2 linked regions of the Homo sapiens genome follow. The protein of the gene in region 1 interacts with the protein of each later gene in a biochemical or structural test. Each region holds a gene or a part of one and is shown on either strand. Other genes may lie near its edges.

What was found. Proteins that work in one complex are often made in the same cells at the same time.
Region 2: the proteins of AEBP2 (region 1) and EED form a complex in vitro, tested with the Homo sapiens proteins (one study listed by BioGRID).

The regions. Positions count from the first base shown.
Region 1 is NC_000012.12:19,491,483-19,495,236, reverse strand, and holds part of AEBP2 (zinc finger protein AEBP2), read right to left. Parts: intron 1,438-3,754; coding exon 1,251-1,437; intron 1-1,250. UniProt on the Homo sapiens protein: Acts as an accessory subunit for the core Polycomb repressive complex 2 (PRC2), which mediates histone H3K27 (H3K27me3) trimethylation on chromatin leading to transcriptional repression of the affected target gene.
Region 2 is NC_000011.10:86,275,632-86,279,343, reverse strand, and holds the end of EED (polycomb protein EED), read right to left. Parts: intron 2,365-3,712; coding exon 2,206-2,364; coding exon of another isoform or gene 2,176-2,205; exon of another isoform or gene 1,573-2,175; coding exon of another isoform or gene 1,525-1,572; exon of another isoform or gene 1,427-1,524; coding exon 1,353-1,426; coding exon of another isoform or gene 1,349-1,352; exon of another isoform or gene 946-1,348; coding exon 819-945; 3' UTR 534-818; downstream 1-533. UniProt on the Homo sapiens protein: Polycomb group (PcG) protein. Component of the PRC2/EED-EZH2 complex, which methylates 'Lys-9' and 'Lys-27' of histone H3, leading to transcriptional repression of the affected target gene.

The sequences.
Region 1 (3,754 bases):
TTCATTGAGGATATGTAGTTAAAACTAACCAGCTGCTCGAGCACAGTGGCTCATGCCTGTAATCCCAGCACTTTGGGAGGCCAAGGCGGGTGGATCAAGAGGTCAGGAGTTCAAGACCAGCCTGGCCACATGGCGAAACCCCACCTCTACTAAAAATATAATGATTAGCCAGTCGTGGTGGCGGGTGCCTGTAATCCCAGCTGCTCGGAAGGCTGAGACAGAGAACTGCTTGAACCCGGAAGTCGGAGGTTGCAGTGAGCCGAGATCACACCACTGCGCTCCAGCCTGGGCGACAGTGTGAGACCCCATCAAAAAAATAATAATAATAATAAAATAAAGCCACAAACTAACCAGCTGACACAAAGAAGCAGTGACCAGCTACACTCTGAGGTTGCAAAGTCTGTTCCTACTCCCAGCATTTACAAGCCTTATCATCTACTTATTTTCTATCCTAAACATCAAGGATACATTTTGGTAAGTAAACACATAAACATTATACATATGTTACAATAGACTAGGTACTATGACACCCATTACATTCAAATTGTTTTGCTATCGGCTGGGTGTGGTGGCTCACACCTGTAATCCCAGCATTTTGGGAGGCCGAGACAGGCAATCACCTGAGGTCGGGAGTTTGAGACCAGCCCGTCCAACACAGTGAAACCCTGTCTCACGCCATTGCACTCCGGCCTGGCTGACAGAGCGAGACTCCATCTCAAAAAAAAAAAAAAAAAAAAAGCAACACTGCTTTGTTATCCACACACATTGCTTTGTGGTGGTTTTTTTTGTTGTTGGTTTTTTGAGACAGGGTCTCACTCTGTCTCCCAGGTTCAAGTGTGGTGGCGCGATCACGGCTCACTGCAGCCTCTACCTCCCAGCTCAGGTACACACACTACTTTGGAGTAGATAGATTACTTAACTTTCACTTGATATTTACTTTTAACATGTTCAAATTTTCTAAAATATTTCTAGAAATACCAATGTTACTATATTTTAAATGTTATTTTGGAAGAGAATCAGAGTAGCCCCCAAATCTAATTTTATACAGTTTATATTTGAAGGCCACATATACTCCCTTAGCTACTACAAACATGTGCCACTGAATTCTCACTCTCACTGACAGACAGGCATCCTACCTGTTTGTTACTTTTAATAGAAGAGGAGTTGAAGTTCAAAGTGGATTTGCATAAAAGTCTAAGATATCTTTTAAAACCATGAAATACACCAGATTTTCTCAGTGTAACACTTACGTAATGAGCGTCGTCTTTTGTTCTTTAATTTCCTCCTTTTGTTCATTCCAGCTTTAGAAGGAGATTCTTCTTTGGCCTTTGGCTGGCTAGAAACTTTTGAGGAGTTCTGCTGACTGAAGTGTGTGGGTACATGACGAGCTAGCCCTCCCTGAGAAGCAAAGCTGGCATTGCAGCCACCAACAACACACTAAAAGAAAATAAAACAGAAATAACGTCAGGCATGCTGTGTAGGGCACGAGAAGAATATCAATGAGTGAATATCTAGTATTTTCGGAAGTAAATAAGTAGTACAATAGAACTAATTCCAGAAAGGAAGCATAAGGGACTAGTAGTCTTTTCACTTTACGAAGTAAGTTGCCAAGTAAGATGACATACATTAGACAAAGCTTGAAAATGCAACAAGTTTCACGACCTCCCAGTTTACTGCTATTTCCACTATATGCAATACAAAAATAATGGGATCTTCTTCCCAGAAAAATCTGGTTTTGAATTAATCATTGTTATAGCAGAAGCACTAAGCTGTTTTTGCAACAAATAATTAGATATCCTGGCAATGACTGGATTCCTGAATTTTATTTTTATTTTTTTGAGACAGCGTATTGTTATTGCCCAGGCTGGGATGCAGTGGTGTGATCTCCGCTCACTGCAACCTCTGCCTCCTGGGTTCAAGTGATTTTTGTGCCTCAGCCTCCCGAGTAGCTGGGATTACACGTGTGTGCTACCATGCCTGGCTAATTTTGTATTTTTAGTAGAGCTATGGTTTCACCACATTGGCCAGGCTGGTCTCGAACTCCTGGCCTCATGTGATCTGCCTGCTTTGGCCTCCCAAAGTGCTGGGATTACAGGTGTAAGCCAGCTGTATTTCTGGATTTTTAAAGTATTTTTTTTACGTTACATGCTACTTCAAAACCTTCAGCAGACTTCCTAGTGTTACACACTATTAAAACAGGTGAGAGAAAAGTTCAATATTGACTTTTTAATGTATTTTGTATTTTGGGTTTTGTTTTTTTTGAGACAGGGTCTCAGTCTATCACCCAGGCTGAAGTGCAGTGGCATGATCTCGGCTCACTGCAGCCTCAACCTCCCAGGCTCAAGTGATCCTCCCACCTCAGCCTCCCAGGTGGTGGTACTATAGGCACACGCCACCACACTCTACTAATATTTTGTTGTTGTTGCATTTTTTGTCAAAAGGGGGTTTCACCATGTTGGGTAAGCTGGTCCTGAACTCCTGGGCTCAAACCATCCATTTGCCTAGGCCCCCCACAGAGCTAGGTGTGCACCACCACACCTGCCTTGTCTTTGTAAATTACTTTCTTATAAATTTCTTAAACTTCAAATGAAAACCCATACGGACTACATTTAATATTTTAAAAATAAATAAATTTTTTTTATTTTATTTTGTTTTTTTATTTATATTTTGTTTGTATAAATTTTTTAATTTGTTAAACAATTAGATCTAGCCTCTCTCTTAGAAAAGACATGCTCAGTGTTGGTCATATGCCGCCCTCTACAATATCCATTAAATACTGCCTCTTTAGCCTTCTGTACTTGCAATGTTAAGAAATCAAAAGGTTAACTACCCGAGTCACCTGACAGATGTGCTATTTTAACAAAGAATGCAGAATGTTCAGGTAGCACCAGAATTAATATATACAAATTAACTGCGGTATAAGTGTGTGATTTCTAATTATATCTTGGGGGAAAAAAATTTGCAGGTCTTCTAACAAATGAATCGTGGTAATTAAAACAAAACAAAACAGAAAATATCCACAGTTGGATGGATAATGACTTTTCCATTAGTCATTTAACCAATTTACTTAGTTTTTGACTTACCAAACTCTAAGCATATAAATGTGTCATGTTAAAAACCAAATATATTCATCTTGTTATCCCCAGGCGGTTCATCTTGTAAAAGTTCATCTAGATAATAGCATTTAAAAAAATCACATGCCTCAGGCTCTTTCCTTCAATCGAGGTACCTCTACCAATTGTAAGCTGCTAAAATCACAACACAGCCCTTTATTTGTAAAAATCATAACTTTCCTCATAAAGTCTCTCTAAATCTGCCACAAATGGACAAGAGCTAATTCTCCCTTGAGGCTGTCCTCACACTTCACTGCATATCTATGTCAACTCACACTTTCCATTTTGAACACAGAGATGTATATTTATGAATATTTATATTCCCAGAAGCATCTTGCAAATCATAGATATTACTAAGTATATTAGCAGAACAGTTATATGTTTACTGATGCTGATAAAAAAAAAAATCACACATTCTTCTTATATGGTATCCATTAATAATTACTCTATTTTGACATACAAAATATATTTTGGGGGCTCCTTATGGCCCTCAGCGTCTCTATGAAAAATGTTTACTTACTCTATGGTGCACACTAAGTTAAAAAAGAGGTAGAAATGATTCAAGACTTTAGTTCAAATACTTATCTATGTCCAGTATTACATAATATGCTAGAAGGATAAAGATGAATAAGATATAGATA
Region 2 (3,712 bases), on another chromosome or scaffold:
GCCATCTCTTTCATGATCCAACCCACTGCATTTAAACTTCTATATCCTCTCCTCCTTTGCCCTAATGATATCTCCTCTAAGGTTACCAATGGCCTAGTTCCAAATCTAATGGCAGTAATATTTTTTAAACTATAAAGAAAGGTTACAGTTAAACATTATCAGAGGTTCTAACTCTGTAGAATTTTAAATATTACTTATGAAACTATTACATAAGAAATCATTAAAAAATATAAAACCATAGGAACTATAATCTCCAATAATTATAAACACAGAATACATTTAGGGCTTATTATATGTCAAATACTGTTCTAACTGTCTCACACATAACGAATCATTTGATCCTCACAATAACCCCAAGGCAAGTATTATTATCCCTGTTTTATACACAAGGAACCAAGCATTGAGAAGTTGTTTATCCAAGGTCACGTAGTAGGAGAGCCAAGATTTGAATTCACTTTAGTTCTAGAGCCTATACTTAATCTCTGTATTACAAAACTTTCTCTGGTTAAGAGAACTACAAAAAACAACCATTATAAAAAGATAAGGCATAATTTTATTACTTTTAACTTTTTTTCACCACAATGAAAGTAACTAAACACACAGCTTTACAAAAATAAATTTTTATTAAAAGCAGTAGAGTCTGAGCAGGAAGACAGTACAAAGAATGTAAACAATGTAAACATCACTACATTCAGCTCAGCCTGATTGAATGCTGAAAGACAACTCTAAATGCTCTACGTGCCCTTACTAGCAAGATACATTAATTCTATTTTACACAGACAACAAACACACTCTAATTTTGATTAGGCAAAAGTATTTTATCGAAGTCGATCCCAGCGCCAAATACTGGCATCATCACAAACAGCTATAAGAATGCTGCTATCCCTGCTAAAACTGGTTTGTCGAATAGCAGCACCACATTTATGATGAGTCAGTGTTGTACATCTAGGGAAAAAACATGACAACAGGTTAAAGACCACACATAACGTTGTCAGTGTCTACCCTAAAACAGCGGATTAGAAAATAAGCAGATGTTCCAAGTCATACGAAAAGCACTTAAAACCAGAATATACTTCACTAAGAGCTCAGTCTCAAATTTTATAAAATTTAGATATATTTTAAGTTCAACAAGCACTACATAATTTGTATAAAAACAAGAAATGACTTGTCACCAAGGTACTTAGGAAAAACAAAAATTATTGGAATAAAAAAGAATAACTTTAACTCTGAAAACAGTAAATGTTAAAAATGACTTAAGGATGGCACTGCAAATATAAATGATCTTCTCTACATTGGCATACAAGTGTGGAGAAAAAGCCTGAAATTTTGAACAGAAATTTCTAAATACTTACTTGGCTTTATGAGGATCTTCTACTTCTAAATCCCAAACATAAAGTTTGCCAACTTGATTGCCCAATGCAAGCATCTGTATAAACATATTTTTAAAAACATCAAATTAATAAAATTACCAGGTTCTAAAGCATTGGAGGAATCCTCAGACAGCTTTCTTGTTTCAGAAAAAGCTCAGTTCCAGCCTCTGTGCTCTTGGCTATTTCTTTGGGTCTTATACTCCTGATTCGTAAATATGAATAAGAGCAATTAATACATCACAAGTGTCTTGAGCAAGTAAGAAGGCATTGTGCAAATTTATGAAGGGCCTTACAAATTTACATTGTTAGCATGGTACTTACTTTTTCTTCTGCCTTCAAGAAATACAGCAAATGCTGTGGAAAGCCTTCCAAACTTTTCTTACAGAAATAAATACCCAAGTAATTTGTTACCAGAAAATCCTAACAATAGATTTATTTAAATTTTTAGGTAACTAGTATTTTATCTGTCTTCTATCCTGATTTTTCTCTAGGAAACAGTTACATAGGTAGACTGACAATCTAATTACTAAAACATTAAGTCTTAGTAATGTTATGATAATGTTTATGTTATGGAACATAAACACCTAATTTCCACCATTGATACCTAACTGCCAACTTAATTTAAAGTAAGCACTGCAGATCATATGCAGAGCCACAAAAGTAGAATGAATAACACCAAAGTATTTGATGAATGACATCAAAGGGCAAAGTAATCAATACAAAACATCAGGGTAGATTTGTAAAGGAAAAAGAACATGGACACAACAGAAAAAGCTAGAATTACAATGGTCTTTCATAAGTCAGATCATTTCAAAATGTAAAAGTATGTTGATACCTTTTGCCAGAAATCCATAGAAAACCTCATGTACCAAATGTCACACTGGCTGTAATCAAATCGCCCAAGAATAGTCACATTAGATTCACTGGGTTTAATTTTATCTATATCATCTTCCATCTTGCCAGGTTTCCAGCACACAATGGCATTTTCACAAGACTAAAACAGAGAGAGAAATGAGAAAAAGAAATGTTAATGAGGAACTGAATCTTACAAAGTAAAAACAAGGCTTTTCTATTGTTTTGGAATTCACAGCTCTTAGAACCTGGTTAATCCATCTATCAAGTACAGTGATGTACATTCATTTATATTTACAGTCAATGACCATACTTAAGGACAAGAAATCTGATTATCAACAGAATTCGATAATACAAAAGAATCACATTGTCTGAAATATTCATTTTGGAAGTCAACATTTCTCTTTCAAGTTAAACCAAGTTCAGCTCTAGATACTCTGACACCCAGAGACTTTAAGTGTTTTATAGCACAGGTCAATTACAAACACACAGAATTAGAATACATGGCTTTTCAGAATCCGGCATTAATCTGGCTCTTGCTTACTTCACTAGTTTCATCTTTCCCCATGCAGTCTCCCATTTCGCTTCTAATCACAGGTGGTTTCCTTTACCTTATTAACTATTATTCCTTCATCCAGTATCTGTGCCACACAGTAGGTACTCAACAGGTATCTTAGGAAAGTTGATGAACTCACATAAATAGCCTTAGAATTCAGTTTATAAATAGGGCAATCGAAGGCAAGTAAAGCAGTTGTTTAACATCAAGACACTCATATGGGGATAGGATTGAAATAGGCTTCAAACTTATACTTTTCCTATCCTATAAAATCAAATTTGTATGCACATACCTAAGCAGTAAGTGGTAAAGAATACAATGAGAAAAAATTGCAAAACTGTGGGCACTATTCATATTACTGTCTAGGTCAGTGGTTTGCCCACGAAGGGACATTTGACAATGTGTCTGTGCTCTAATGGGTAGAGGCCAAAGATGCTACTAAATATCTTATAATGCACAGGAAACCCCCTACAAAAAAAAGAATTATCTGGCCTAAACTAAATAGCACCAGGATTCAGAAATCCTCATGTAAGTGAACAGTGCCCCTAGAGTTTTACTGGACAGCCTACATAATATAGTGACAGGTGGCAGCCCTGTGGGGTTCACAGGCATTTAAATAATTTAATAGTATGGCCACTTGAAGATTAGGGAGGAGACAACACATTTTTCTTCTCTACCTTTTTTATTTAGACTTTTTAAATCCTAGTGCTATATGACATCTATTATTCAAGTTTTTAACTGTAAAGGACCTTAGAAACCACCCAGTGTGATGACTCTTGGCTAAATGCAAAATTGGATCAATAGTCTGTGGAGTTTTCTCAAAAGACTCATCTCAGCCCCTACTGATTCAGAGTCTCTCAGCCCCTACTGATTCAGAGTCTCTAAGAGAAAGGCCAAAGCAGAAGAACTGTAAAATAGCTCTTCAAGTGCTTCT